2 separate regions of the Homo sapiens genome follow, and region 2 is linked to region 1. Evidence: fine-mapped expression QTL. Tissue or cell type: sun-exposed skin. Region 1 holds a variant in brackets; the other region holds the start of a gene. All regions are shown on one strand. Distances are from middle to middle.

Evidence for each region. PIP is the estimated chance that this variant, and not a neighbour inherited with it, causes the effect.
Region 2: ACO1 starts here. The variant in region 1 is fine-mapped to the expression of ACO1 in sun-exposed skin (GTEx, PIP 0.99).

What each region holds. Positions count from the first base shown.
Region 1 is chr9:32,455,135-32,463,242 of GRCh38, forward strand. It overlaps RIGI (RNA sensor RIG-I), which reads right to left. Exons shown (of 18, transcript NM_014314.4): 17 at 4,237-4,380; 18 at 168-2,284. The coding sequence ends at 1,988. It overlaps LOC101060445 (a long non-coding RNA gene), which reads left to right and starts at 3,908. Exons shown (of 1, transcript NR_197444.1): 1 at 3,908-8,108. The variant G/A (reference allele first, on the strand shown) is at 4,893.
Region 2 is chr9:32,380,849-32,388,956 of GRCh38, forward strand. ACO1 (aconitase 1) reads left to right here and starts at 3,795. Exons shown (of 21, transcript NM_002197.3): 1 at 3,795-3,887. RefSeq lists a silencer at 3,596-3,975.

The DNA of each region.
Region 1 (8,108 bases):
ACCTGGGCAACAGAGTGAGACTCCATCTCAGAAAAAAAAATAATAATAATAACTTTTATCTTATTAAATCTATTTCTAGTAGATGTTTTACACATCCTATTGGAGTTCTTAAACAATAGTGTATTAGTCTGTTTTCACACTGCTATAAAGAACTGCCTGAGACTGGGTCATTTATAAAGAAAAGAGGCTTAATAGATTCACAGTTCCACATGGCTGAGGAGGCCTCAGGAAACTTACAATCATGGCAGAAGGGGAAGCAGGCAAGTCTTACATGGCAGCAGATGAGAGAGAGAGTGTGTGTAAAGGAGGAATTGTCAAACACTTATAAAACCATCAGATCTCATGAGAACTAACTCACTATCCCAAGAACAGCATGGGGACAACTGCCCCCGTGATCCAATCACCTCCCGTCAGGTCCCTCCCTTGACACATGGGGATTATAATTCAAGATGAGATTTGGGTGGGGACATATAGCCAAACCATATCAAATAGCAATTAAAAAAAATCACATAAGAAAAGACACTCTTAATAAAATACAAATAGAAAATGAAAAAAAACCAACTCATAAACTTGGTTTAAATAATCCATTTGTATTGGGTCTTAGTAAGAATACTACTACTAGTAACTATTATCAAGCAACTACTGTGTCATGTACTTTTCACACATTCTTTTAATTAAAAACTCTCCACTAACCCTTACAGTTCAGTATTATCCTTGTTTTACAGATGAAGAAAAGCCAAAGAGAAGTTATATAACTGGCAAGTTTCTCTGGCTCCCCGCCTGCACCACTGCTCACCAGATTGCATGAAGAGGGAGGCAGCTGTAACACCTCATCCCGTTGATCTCCAGGGAACTCAGATACTTGTTTCCACGTCCAGGAAACCGCAAACTAAGCTCTTTGAAGCATCAGCAAACCTTGCTAAGTGACACGTGAATGCCATTTGGATACATATTCTAATCTTTCAAGTAGAAAGGACAGTCAGACTGCCTCATCTGTAACATCCAAGGGATCTGAGAACAGACATTCAGTCCAGGTGTTGAACATCAACATCATTATAGGAAAATGGTCAAAGAGAACAATGGCACACGTTAAGAGAACATATTAATAGGGCAAGATGTATAGTAAACTAAGTTTTCAAGAAGTATTTTATCATTTTTATGCTCTCTACTAAAAGCTGACCACTGTAGAGTGGATACACATTGCTACATACAGCAACTCTACAGTGGACAGCTTTTAGTAGTAAGCATAAAAATGGCTTTATGTTCTCATGTTCTCTGTGTAGCCATACCACACGTTGCTACACCAGGAACATGAGTACATATAACCATTACATATACATACCTGTATGTATGTATATTAGTTACATATACATATGTACAGTATATACATGTATATATATTGAACCCTTGGAAGGGATCAGCAAAGAGGAGGACTCAATAAAAAAAGACTAGAATAGAACTAGAAGAGAGAGAAGCCCAGGGAGAGCTTCAAGAAGAGTGCTCAACAGGGCCAAATGCGCAGAGGTCAAATAGAAGGTTAAGAAGTGCCCAGTGGATTTGGCAACCAGAGTCACTGGTAACCTTCAAAAGAACAATTTCAGTAGATTGTTAAGGGCAAAAGCCAGTTTACAGTAGGTTAAGGAGACAAAGGGAGATAAAAATTCCCAACATTCCATTCATTCATCTATCCCAGTGTGTACAGAGTGATTACTGTGTGTTTGTTGGCAGTTGACTCTAAAAAGAAGGCTAGAAATGAGGCTTTTTAATTTTTCCCAAGTACTATGAGCTCTGTTGGCCTACAAAATACTCAGTGCTGTGATTCACTCATTTGTGCTTTGCATATATAATATAGTACAAACTGCTAAAGATATTTTTAAAAAATATATTTTCACAGGGGTACAAGCGATCCATGATTATACCCACTATGTTTGTTTCTTCTCCACTCAAAGTTACTCATTCCCTGTAGCTGAAGATTGAGGACCTGATATCATTTGGACATTTCTGCTGGATCAAATGGTATCTTCTCAAAATGAAAGTCCTTCCACTTCGAGTACAGTGTCTGAACTCCAGTTGCAATATCCTCCACCACAAAACTTTCAATTTTTATAACTGGAATCTCAAATGTCTTGTACTTCACATGGATTCCCCAGTCATGGCTGCAGTTCTGTCGGGCACAGAATATCTTTGCTCTTTTTTCAAAACTTGAAAACTGCTTTGGCTTGGGATGTGGTCTACTCACAAAGCATTCCTTAAAAGCATCTCCAAGCACAGTGTAATGGCATTCCTACAGATGAAGGGATGGAATAACACACAAAAGAGAACGTTAGAACCAGTACATAATTGTGATTTAAAAAAAAAAAAAAGAAAACCCCACAATAATCTGAGGCAAAGAACAGGTGGGTCTCACTTATTTTACAATTGGAGGAAAAAAAAAAATAGATTCACCCAAAGTCCAGAGGATCCATGCACCTGACTCCCCTCTACAGGCAGGGTGGGGTTGCAAGTGAGGACACTGGGCACCTCATAAAGAAGAAGATTAAGAAGGTTCCAGGTAACCCAGCTTCTGAAGGTAGATACTCATTATTCAAAAACAGAAGCGATGTTTGCTGAAAATTTGTGAAGCTGAAGTTCACCAGTGGCCCTGGCAGGCACAATCCAAAGGATACAGGGAAAACGACCAAGGTCAAGATGCAATTGAAGAAGGTCAGGGACTAATGTGTCCACAGGCCCCACCTAGAGTCAACTTTAGAGTAAACAGCTCAGAAACAAATGCAGATCCAACATACTAGTCCCTCAGGAAAACATAGGGTCTAAAAGGGCCATTTTTAGTAGAACAATCACCCAAATTGGAGCTGAAAGGACCTTTTACAGCTAAAGAAGCAGACTTAGAAAGGTAAGGGAACTTAGCAATATGACTCCTAATAGGCTTTTTGCCCAAACAGCTGAGCTGATGAGAGATTTCTGCTTTCTGAAGACGAACGGAACATCCTGAAGTAATAACTCCTCATCTGAGCCAGCCCAGCCCCTCCACTGTGCCCCCCATGCAAGAGTTATACCCCATATTTCTCTTTGGAGATTTTTCTAACCCTTTCTCTGAAAGTTTTAAGAAAGAAATATAAGGCTGCAATAGAAGGCTAATCTGCAGATGTCACATTTTACAAATAAGGAGATATTTTGTTTTCATTATAAAAGTGATCCATAGCCCAAAAGGAATGTTTGGAAAACATAAGGTAGTAGGAAAAGAGAAAAAAAGTCATGGAATCTCACCACCAAAATATTAATACATTTTGGTATAGTTCCCCTAGCCTTTGTTTTTCTGTAGCAAGGTAGGTTTTTTGACTTTTTCTCTTGACAATGACAATGAATGTATTTGCTGCTGTTGTTTCACACAGCTACAAAGTAGCATCTTTACAATTCTGTGTTCTGGTTACTTTTTTCCTTATTACCATTAGTTTGTAAGCAGTTTTTCATTATACTACATAAACTTCATAATTTTTTAAAATAAACTTTACTTTGGAACAATTTTAGATTTAAAGAAAAATTGCAAAGATATCCCAGAAAATTTCTGCATACCCTTTACCCAGTTTCCCCAAATGTTAACATCTCATATACCACAGCACATTTGTCAAAACCAAGATAATTAACATCAGTACATTACTATTATCTAAACTACAGATTTTACCACTCTTTCTCTAGTTGTATCCTTTATCTGTTCCAGGAGCTAATCCAGGACACGTCATTGCATTTAGCATGACTTTTTTTTTTTTTTTTTTGAGACAGAGTCTTGCTCTGTCACCCAGGCTGGAGCGCAGTGGCGCGATATCAGCTCACCGCAACCTCTGCCTCCCGGTTCAAGCGATTCTCCTGCCTCAGCCTCCCGAGTAACTAAGATTACAGCCACCTGCCACTACGCCCAGCTAACTTTTTTATTTTTAGTAGAGACGGGGTTTCACCATGTTGGCCGGGCTGGTCTCGAACTCCTGACCTCGTGATCGCCCACCTTGGCCTCCCAAAGTGTTTTGATTACAGGCATGAGCCACTATGCCTGGCCAAAAACTATTTCTTTATTATTGAACATTTAGTATTTTTTTTTCACTTCTTAGCTTTTTTTAAATACACAGATCATGGCCACAGTAACAATGGAAATAATAGTAGTTTTATTATAAATATTTCACCAACAGTAAGCTGTAGCTAGTGCTAAAACATGACCAGGCACTTTGTAAAAAGGCAGCTTACCTCTATCACTCTTACGTCAGCTGTGTAACATGCCAAGGCTTTGCACTTTCTGCAGAGCAGTTTTTTATTTTCCTTATCAGGTACAGGTTTTGGTTTTTCTTGACTATCTCTGATGAATTTTTCATGAGTCTGTATATGCAGAATCTAATGCAAAAAGAAAGACCGCAAATGTAATTTGAGTACAACATATATAGCAAGAAACAGGCACAGATACGTACAATACATATACATGCACGCACATGTATAATCATTCATATACAACTTCCATGAACATATGGTACCTGACTTTGTAAAATCACAGATTTTATTGGTTCTCCTAACTTAGTATTAGTCAATGCTTAATTGTGGCCTCCAATTAGTCTTTCAATTTCTTCATCAAAAATGCTCATAAAAGCACTAAAGATGTCCATAGAATAGTCATATGAACTATGCTTTCTACTTTAGTGTTTGGCAAAACTTGGGAAAAAAAACAAAACCTGTACCAGATATACAATATGCGCTGTTTCAGGCATAATTATATCCATTTGCAGGCACAAACTCAGTGAGTGATACAACAGGCAGAAGAGCCCCTGATATGGTTTGGCTGTGTCCTCACCCAAATCTCAACTTGAATTGTATCTTAACAGAATTCCCACGTGTTATGGGAGGGACCCAGG[G/A]GGAGGTAATTGAATCATGGGGGGCCAGTCTTTCCTGTGCTATTCTTATGATAGTGATTGTGTCTCACAAGACCTGATGGGTTTATCAGCGTTTCCACTTTTGCTTCTTCCTCATTTTTCTCTTGCCGCTGCCATGTAAGAAGTGCCTTCTGCCTCCCTCCGTGATTCTGAGGCCTCCCCAGCCATGTGGAACTGTAAGTCCAATTAAACCTCTTTGTTTTCCCAATCTCGGTTATGTCTTTGTCAGTGGCATGAAAACAGACTAATACAGCCCCCAACATCTAAAACCTTTTTTCTCTCTCCCCTTCAGCCACAGGGAATATTGTTGCATATGTATAGTATGATTGTATTCTAATTCAAAATCTAGGCCTTGGCTAAGAACATGGTCCAACTTAGAACCATGGACATGATATTATAAAACTCTTCATACCAATAAACAGAAAGATCTCAAACTGAATGAAAAAAAAAGACAATCATAGATGCCAACACTGAGAAGAGAAAGATTTTAAAGCACCTAATAAAGATGCTTCGATGGGCAATTATAAATACTTTTGAAACATAAAGAGAAAACATAAAGGCTCAACAATGAAATGGAAGACATAAAGTTTAGAACTGAAAGATACAACCAAAATAAAAAGTTCAATGGATGGGCTTTCCATAGCAGAATGGAAGGGACAAAGAAAAGAGTCAGTGAACTGAAAGAACAACAGAAATTACCCAATCTGAACAACAAAAAAATACACTGGGGAAAAAAAAAGCGCAAAGTCTCAAGGACCCGTAGGACTATAAAAAATGATGTCATGGCACTGGAGTTCTGCAAGGAGTGAAGAAAGAGCAGGGCTTAAAAAGTATTCACAGAAATGACCTCCAAATATATCCCAAATTTAACAAGCTACATCAACCAGGATTCAAGAAGCTGAACAAGCTCCAAACAGGATAAACCCCTTCAAAAAACACTCTAAGACAGGTTATAATTAAATTTATGAAAACTGAAGAAAAAAATCTTGAAAGCAGCCAGAAAAAAAAAAAAAAATGACACCTTACCCATAGGGGGAAATCAGTCTGAATAACAGGAGATTTGTCATTAGAAACGATGGAGGCTACCTGGAAGTGGCACAATATTTTTTAAACGCTGAAAGAAAAGAACAGTCCACCCCAGAACCCTAGACTCAGCAAAATGCCACCTTCAAAAATAAAGGAGAAATGAAGACATTCTTAGATGAAGGAACACTGAGAATCTGTCATCAGCAGATTTACCCTAAAAGAATGGCTAAAAGAAGTTTTCTAAACAGAGGAAATGATAAAAGGAACCCTGAAGCCTCATGAAGGAAGAAAGAACACACTGATTTCCTCCATGTCTTCTATGGAAGATTCTGTCCGTCCCACTGGTTTATGGTTTATGGTGGCGCCTCTCCATATCAGATTATGCTTTCACGTGTCCCAGGTGGATCCAGACAGCCTAGGTGCAAATAGTGTCCCTGTCACTTAGCAGCTATGTGATTTGGGGCAAGTGCCTCGTTTCTTTACATACAAAATGGGACAATAGCATCTGCTTCACGGACTGTCAGGAGATAACATGAGTTTATGACTGCTCAGGCCTGCCCAGCACAGGGTAAATGCCCATCACCGTTGCCTCTTCTCTGTTAGGCTAGTCTTATGCTAAGAGCCATGAAAATGTTAATGGGGTGGCTTGTAGTTTTGTATTGATAAGGCAATCTCCATTCATTAGGGATTGCCTTATCAATACGAAACTACTAGCTACCCCCATTTTTATTTTTCTAGAAATATAGCTATTTTCATCTATTTATTATTTTATATAAACTCTAGAACCATTTTATCAAGTTAAAAGTATCATTTATGCTTTCAATATGGTTTGTGACACGTGAATAAGCAAATTTGGGGTGAATGCACGTGTTTAAAATATTCAGTCATTCCATTCAAGAGCATGGCATTTCTTTTATCTTAATATCTCCCAGTAAAATTTTTTTATTTGTCCTCATTTCTGCTTCAAACTTTTCTGATTAGGCTGGTAGATGTAATGGTGAAACAGATGGGTTCTACCAACTCTACCATGAACTAGCTGTGTGATCTACTGGCACTGAAGCTATTCAAGTCTCAGTTTCCTGCCTATAAAATGACATAGGAGGCACTACTGTATGGATTGCTGTAAAGCCTATTGATGTAAGTAAAGCATTTGCAGGGACTGTTGGAGAGTCAGTGTTCTACATGCATGAGCTACACTTATTGTCACTGCGAATGGAAATCTCCCTCCCCCTTATATCTTTTAATTGGTTACGGATCATACATAGATAATATATTGATTACCATACCACTTCAAATTCAAATTTGCTTTATATAAAAAAAAAATTAGATCTAGCTTTTTTTTTTTTTTTTTTTTTTGAGACAGAGTCTCATTTTGTCACCCAGGCTGGAATGCAGTGGCACAATCTCAGCTCACTGCAACTTCCAGCTCCTGGGTTCAAATGATTCTCCTGCCTCAGCCTCCCAAGTAGCTGGGATTACAGGCAGGTGCCACCACATCCAGCTAATTTTTGTATTTTTAGTAGAGATGGGGCTTCACCATGTCAGCCAGGCTGGTCTTGAACTCCTGACCTCAGGTTATCCACCCACCTCAGCCTCCCAAAGTGCTGGCATTACAGGTGTAAGCCACCACACCCGGCTTCCTTTCCCCCACTCCCCCTTTTTGAGATAGATTCCTACTATGTTGCCCTGGCTGGACTTGAACTCTTGGGCTTAAATGATCCTCCCATGTAGCTGGCGCAATAGGCGTGAGCCATCATGCCCAGCTAGACCTAGAATGTTTTGATTTAAAAAAACAAATATACTGGCTGGGCACAGTAGCTCACGCCTGTAATCCCAGCACTTTGGGATATGCCGAGGCTGGCATATCACTTGAGTCCAGAGTTCAAGACCAGCCTGGGCGACATAGCAAAGCCCCATCTCTACTAAAACTACAAAAATTAGTGATGCGTGGTGGCACACACCTGTAGTCCTAGCTGCTTGGGAGGCTGAGATTGCAGTGAGCCAATATCACACCACTGCACTCCAGCCTGGGCTCTGTCTCAAAAAAATAAATAAGAAATAATTAAAAAATTAAAAACCAAATATAATTTCCCCTTCCCCACTTCTTGGCCCCATCCCACCTGAAATTATCTTCATTATTTTTGTAAAAATAAAGGGTGTCCAGGCCTCCTG
Region 2 (8,108 bases), 74 kb before region 1:
GTTATGAATATAACTTTGATTTTAAGAGGAACAAAACATTTATTTCAAATTTTCTCTAGTATGAAGACATATATTCAGTGAAAAATTTAGGGATTCTAAAGTCCCCTCAAAGCATTCAGGAGGACCATTTTATACTTCATTCATTGCCAAACAGATGTCTTCCCTCCGTGCCACTCTAGAGGACTCTGAACAGCGCAAAGGCCAACAGAGAGCAAAGGGTAAGCAATAGAAAGACACTGACAGTAAGTCAGTCAACAAACTTGTATTGAGCACCTACTATGCACCAGACTCCATGTTAGGGATGATGAACAAACTGACATGGGCCCCTGCCCTCATGGAGTGTATATTTCTAGGTAACAGGTCTTTGGTGCCAATCTGGGGACATGCTACAGCAGAATCACCTGTGGTAAAAATGTAGCGTATTCAGAATCTGAACACAGACCCCCACCCTGACCTAATGAATCAGACATTCTAGGAGGCAGAGGATACAGGAGGCTATATTTTTATCAGTGCCCTATGGTAAATCTGAGAAACACCCAGATTCGGAGAACTACCATTGGTGTTTCTCAAAGCATGGTCTTTTGACCACCCACATCAAACTCAGCCTCCTAAGAGCACAACACAGGCACGCATGTTTTCAATGTACCCCAAGGTTTGAGAAGCGTTATGCTTGACTTTTTCTCTTACACCTCTCCCTTCCTATTAAATGACATGTATGTGAAAATGCAGTATAAATTGTAAAGCATGATACAAAGTTAGTTGGGTATAGTTCCTAGGACCTTTCAATAAACTGAGGAAGTCCAGCATATACAAGTAACTGAAATCGGTGTGGAATATGATGAGGCATTCCTCAGAGCTCAACAGGTCTCTGGCAGAATCTTCATGGTTCTTCTTATAGCAGCAGAGCCTTCTAGCAGGTAAGGCTGCTAAAACAATACTGTTACTTCAAATGAAGGTCCTTCTGCCTCTGCCCCCCACCAGAGCACAGCTGGGGTGCCTGAGCAGTTACATGCTTGGGTGGCATCCTCTCTGAAGGTCCCTAGAGTATATGCCCTCAGCTGGGCCATTAGCAGAACCTTTTATATCGTGACAGAAATATTTGTTAGGTGGACCCTGTGAGAGCGTAGTAATATGCCATGGCAATATACCCCTTAAACATTTAGCTTTCTCAGCAGATCATGAAATACAAATTCGGGATGCAGGATTAGGATGAAAAAGAAACTAAATGGATAGGAGGGGAGAGACAGATGGTTAGAGAAGACACTAAATTCCCATTTTAGATGTGATGAATGACAGGCACTGATATGGTTTGTAATCCCCACCTGTGGAGGGAAGGAGGTGATTGGATCATGGGGATGATTTTTATTATTAGCTATACTGAGAGAAACTGTAAGCAGCTGCCCAGAGGATTCTTGTTCCCTGGGAAGGCAGCTCAGGGATCAGGCCCTTAGGCAGTAATTAAGAGAGCACGAAAATTAAACGTATAGCAGGTGTGGTGGGAAGAGGGCATCAGGGGAGAGCCGTTGGATATTTACCGGGAGCCAAGATGAGGCTAAGACCTGCCTCTCCTTGTTATGAATTTAACTCTTTTTTTCTTAAAGAGGAACAAAACGTTTATTTCAAATTTTCTCTGGTATGAAGACATATATTCAGTGAAAAATTTAGGGATTCTAAGGTCCCCTCAAAGCATTCAGGAGGACCACTGTGCATTCAGAGGACACTCTCTTGCCTGCTGCCAGGTAAGACATACCTGCTTCCCCTTCTGCCATAATTGTAAGCTTCCTGAAGCCTCCCCAGCATGCAGAACTGTGAGCCAATTAAACCTCCTTCCCTATGAATTACCCAGTCTCAGGGTTCTTTACAGCAGCGTGAGAACGGTCTAATACAGACACCTTTGGAATATCCAGGTGGGGTTGCCACATATGGCTGCAAATCAAGAGTGTGAAGGTCAGAAAGTTAACTAAGACCAATGACAGAGACATAGCAGGCTTCAGCTAGAAGTGGCAGGCAGTCTGCATACTGAGAAAATAGATGAAGAAAAACTCAGCAAATGGAGAAACATATAAAGCAAGAGGAGAGAGTGTAGGGAAAGACCTTAAAAAAGAGGGACAAAAGAGGGAAGAGGTGACTCCTAAGAGCGGAGGGCTGAAAAGCCAAAAGGAGGTTAACATTTCTAGGAAAACGAATCGCCAGTGTCAAATACCACAGAGTAGTGAGTAAGGACAGGAACAGAGGACAGGCCCTGGGATTCACGATCTGCACGTCACTGGTGACAACGTCCAAGAGCAACAGACTGGGGGGATGTGGAACTATTTCCTTCACGGTTTTGACCAGCGTGCTTACTAATAAATCTCAATTCCCTTCATAGCTCTGATTTGATTGTTTTCTGCGAAGGATTCTCAGTTACACGGATGTTATCATTGAACATTAGATACTTTGCTTTCCGAATGGCTGCCTCATTAAGAATCGCAATTTAGCTGGATGTGTCCTCATCGGACTTCCCCAGCCTTCTACTCACTCTCACCTTGCCCCTACTCTCCCTACCTCCCAAGGGGACTGGAGCATGATTTTTCAGGGATTGTGGTGCACCTCTGCCATATGGTGGACATTCAAAGAAAATTTAATTACTAATGTGAATGGAAAGGATTTAGGAAGTGGGTGGGAAAACAGTCTCCTCTCATATTGGAAATACAGTTACTTCCCCTTTCAAAATAAATATAAGTATTTATATTTCAAAGTTAAATATAACTAGACGATAGTTGTACCCTATAGTGCAGTATGACAGGGAAGGTGTAGGCTTTGGTGTCAAACCAACCTAAGGACTGAGTCTCAGCTGTTGCGCATTGCACACCTGCAAAGACGGGTAATATTCTTTACTTGTAAGGTGGTTGGAAGAGCTGAACTGAATAACGTGGAAAGAGTCGATCACAGGGCTTTGTGCAGAATAGGAGGGCAGTATAAAGTAGCAGGGGGGCTATTAGTACTGGCTATTGTTTACTCATCCTATAAGCTGCTTATTCAGAAAACTACAGTAACTTTCCAAATAATTTGGGCAGGAAAACCTCACCACCTTTCATCTAGAAAGATCTAATCACTTCTTTGAACGCCATTCACCCAAGAGGGCACAACTCCTACCAACATGAAAAGCAGATCTTGTGAAAGCCCACTTGCTGCCATCTCCCAGCCATTTCTCCGACTTCAGACCGGTGAACATCGTGCATTAGAAAGTGTTGTTACATGTCCAAGGAAATCTACATATAGAACTTTTGCCACGGAAATGCTGAAGTCCTATTCTGACAGCGTGACTCCGATGTCCACTTGGCAGGCTTTGCGCAAAGAATTAAGGCGAGGGTGGAGAGGGTGGGTAGGGTGGGGACGGACAAAGTGAGAAGGGAGGCGGGCCAAGTGACCACACGTACATGAAGCCTCTCCAGTTATGGCCAAATCATTTTTTAAAAATAATTCCATTTCTTCCCCACCCTTTGGTCACTTCCTAACGCCGGCTGGGGAGTCACATGCTAAGCTCCAAAGTGAGCAACAGACACCCTCGTCCCAGGTCCCATGCTGGCAGAAGCGGACCCGGGCCGAGGGATCAGCCCTCCCACTTCCAGCGGAGGAGCCCTTCGCAACCCTAGCCTCCAGCCCGGGGCGAAGTCCTCCAGGCCCGCGGGGGCGCCCGCAGGCTCCGCCCCTTCTTCGGCTAGCTGCCCGTCCGTCCCGCCCCTGCTCCGCCCTTCCCGCCCCTGCTCCGCCCATCGCGCGGCGGCCCCGGGGGCGAGAGGGGGCGGAGCGTGGAGGCGGCAGCTGGAACCGCGCAGCGCACGGGAACGCGTCCCGCTGCTTGGGTCAGGTTCGCCGGTCGCGGGAGCCCCGCCGTGCAGTCGGAGGTGAGTACCGACGCGGCCCGACCCACGTCCCCAGGCGGGAGCGCCGTCCACCCTGTATCCCTCGAGAGTCGGTGCGGGCCTTTACCGAGGTGCCCGAGGCAGTGGCGGCACGGGGGACACGGAGGCGAGCTTGGGGAGGCTGAGAGGAGAATCGGGGACGTGTTTCTGGCGACTGACGTCTCCACCCTGTCCCCAGTCTATGTCATGCCGGGGAGAGAAACCAGGGATTGGAAGTGGCTTTCCTAGACCCTTCTTAGCCTTGGCTGTGCGTGCTGTCCTGAAAGTCCTTGCCTAGGGTGTGCGGCCAGTCCTGGGAGTCCTAACCCCGAGGGTGTGAGGCCCGCACTGGGAGTCCTCGCCCAGGCCCGGCTGGCTGGATAGGGAAACCCTTGCTAAAGTTGTGCGGGCAGATCCGGGAATCCACTCCAAGGGGTAAAGGGAAAATGGGATGAGGGGGAAGAGACCCTTCGTGGGAGGCTTGAACACAGAGCCCACCATGATAGATTCAGAGATCTAGAAAGGAGCTTGGGCTGCAGTTATGACCAAGTCATTTTTTTCTAGATTCAGCTAGCACATCATAATGGCATCTTCCTTCTTGCAACACATGTAACTCTCTTCCCTGGGGGACAACCTCTAGGACAGAAGTCCCCAAACTTTTCTGGTACTCAGTACTCCTTTACACTCTTAAAAATTAGTATCTTAAGGAGCTTTTATGTGTGTTATATCTATCCATATTTATAATATGTAAGTAAGACTGAGAAATTTGTACTATAATAATTCATTTAAAAAGAATAGTGAACTAATTATATCTTAACATTGCCTATTTTTATGAAAAAGAACTATATTTCCCAAAACAGAAAATGATTGAGAAGAGTGGCATTGTTTTACATTTTTGCAAATCTCTTTGATGTCAAGCGTAATTGAAGACAGCTGGATTCTGATAGCTGCTTCTGCAGTCTGTTGCAATATCACATATCATGTAGCCTCTTGAGACCTCCACTGTATACTCCTGAAAATGTGTGAATGAAAAAAAGCAAGTAACATTTTATTACTAGGAAAATGGTTTTGACTTTGGAGATCCCTAGGAGTTCTCTGCACCACACTTTGAGGATGCTGGTGTAGGAAATGCTTCAGAGGCTTCATTCATTGGGCCTGCTTCTTGTTTGTGATCCTTCCTCTGATTGGGAACACACACCACCTCATGCCATGGACAGTATTAACCTCTGGTATCTGGAACCAAGTTTGATCTCACTTTGGAAACCATGTACTAGGTCCCCACGTGAGGCTGTGATGAACCTTGCCAGCCTCCTGAAAAGTCAGCAAGGCTTCGCACATGCCTTTGGTTGTCTCTGTGCTTGCAGAGCTGACCTGTCTGTGCATCAGGATTACAACAGTGATGTGGCAAACAGGACCTGTAGGCTCACAAAAGTGCCAGTGGGGAGACCATGCCAAGTGTGTAGGGGTTCCTGTGAGAGTTACCAAGTAGTCAGGAAGTTATTTCCAAAAGAACAAGGAGGCATGCTTTTGCCTTCCCTTGCACGTGTTCATTTCTGTTTGCAGTTGCATGGTTATTAGCCTTGAGTTTATTGGAATAATGATTTCCAGTCTTGACGTTCTTTCACTTTCCACTTTCAGAGGGTGTCACTCTGAGTGGTGCTTCCTCAGCCCCTGTCAAAAAGCAGTTTCCACCATCCTGGAGTGTGGTAGGTGAGGTCCTTCACGGGACTCTTTCCTTAGCTTCGTGCCTTGTCAGAACAAGTTCAAGACAGATGTTATGTGTATATATTTGGGAGGAAGAAATTTTCTAACTCCATCCTCCCTTTTGTTCCTTCATCCATAGAGCCTCTTGTGCTCTGATGGATCAGTTTAAATGCTACAGCCGATACTTGAGAAATGTTGCATGCACATGAGCGTGTTGTGTGTGTTGCACAGTCCACAGGTGAGGAGGAGGAGAAGTCCACAGGAGAAGGAAATGGGATCTAAACTCTGAGCACCTGCTGTGTTCTTTGTATTAAAAAATTCCACTTTGATGGTGGGGTCTCATTCCTTCATTCTTTCAGTAGATTTTTATTGGCCACCTATTTCTCATGTGTCCAGTTATGTGCGGGATGCCAGGAAAGTAGTGAGCACAAAAGATGCAGTCCCTGTCTTTCTGGCAATTATGGTCTGATAGCTTTGATAACTGCTGGTTAATTGAGATAGTCTATTATATAGTCAGAGTGTGTACATGAAAGCTGGTCCTGTGTGAAGAGCAGTACCCCCTACCTAAAGTGTGCTTCAAAGGCATGTGCTGAAGAAACCAGTCCCACACTGTGAAGATGATGATAAAAACCAACGTGTATCACCACGTGCCTGGCAAAGAACTTCCTTTGCCTTCTTTCCCCCACTCTTCCTTCTACATAGGAAGTAATTTCCTGTGAGGCAGCCAGATTCACAGGGAAATTACCTCCAACCTGGTGCCAGTCACTGGGCCAGCCTCGGGTTAAGACACTTTCTCTGGGTCTCAGTGTCTTTGACTTTAAAATGAGGAGTTAGGCCATTGATAGTAAGTGTCCCAAGGAGCCAGTGGTTTCAGAGCTGGTTTATACTAGCATTTGTGCATATCTCTTCCTAACTCCGTGTTCAGTGGCAACACATTTTTTAGATTGAAATAAGCCATGGTGGGAATAATAACACCATGGAAATTGGCAAATGCTACATCAGAGCTTTTTTTTCCTCTTGGAGTTCAAGTTGTTAAACCTTTGCCAGCTGACACTGCTATTGTCTGAGCCAAGGTGCTTTTGGTTTGTTTTTTTAGTAGAAAACAGACTCTTTAGCCTAGACAAAGATCCTAGATATAGGGTGTATGATTCAAGTCCTCTAAAATTTTTGATAAGGAAAAAAATCTGTTTTCATCATATTCTAAAATATAGATCAGCAAACTTTTTGTGTAAAGGGACAGGTAGTGAAATATTTTAGGCTTTTTGGGTTATGGTTATACAGTTTCTATTGCAGCTACTCAGCTCTGGTGTTGAAGCACGAAAGCGGCAATAGACAACATGCAAACAAACAAGCATGGCTGTGTTCCAGTCAAACTTGATTTACAAAAACAAGGGCCAGCCATAGTTTGCAGACTCCTGACCTAGACTATCAGAACAAGAACCATGTTTCAAAGAGAGAGTTTTATGGAAAAGGAGATTCTTCAGGACTTTATGCGTGAATACCAGAAACTTGAGTCTCCAAGATGGACGTAGCGGGCAGTAGTAACTGTAGAGGATTTGGAATCAATCATGGAAGACTCCATAGTAGGTTGTTTAAAGGAAGGCCAAGTGTGTTGAAGTTTTGAGGACAGAGCCACATATGGGTCTTATTCCCAACTCCCTCCCTGGAGCCATCTCAGATGTTATGCTAGAATGGATGTACCTGCAGTCTAACCCGTTGTGTGAATTTTGCATATTATTATGCAAAAACTAGTAGTGTCTCTAAGAGCTGTCTTGATTCCAGGGGCAGAGACAAAGGAAATGTTAAAAAGGATGGAAAGGCCCAGGCACCGTGGCTTACGCCTGTAATCCCAGCACTTTGAGAGTCCAGATCGCTTGAGCCCAGGAGTTCAAGACCAACCTGGGCAACATGACAAAACCCCATCTCTACCAAAAATACAGAAAAAAATTAAAGCCAGGTGTGATGGCACATATCTGTAGTCCCAGCTACTTGGGAGGCAGAGGCAGGAAGATCACCTGGGAAGTCCAGGCTGCAGTGAGCCATGATTGCATCACGGCACTCCAGCCTGGGCAATAGAGTAAGACCCTGTCTCAAAAAAAAAAAATCCTCGTTATATATGTATATGATACATTGTAGAGTACACTGTGTGTGTATACCTGTGTGTATGCATATTTGTACATCTATGTGTACATAAGTTGTGTGCATGTGTCATTACATATTCCATTCCATGTATTTAAAGTAGCATCATGAATGTTTAGAAGATAGACCAGTAGCCAGTTCTGGGCAGTGGAATGAGGTAGAAGGAAGCCAGAGAACTTTTGTTACTTTTCATAATAACAGATGTGTGCCTATCTTATAAGGGAGGATAGCCTGTAGCATTCATATATTGCTTTTACAACATAGTAAACCTAAAATCCCAACAACGTATACTTTCGGAAGGAAAATAGAGTTATTTCTCTGATAGGAATGTTGCCACCATCCTCCTCCCCCAATTAAAAAAAACTGCTTTGTCATATCACA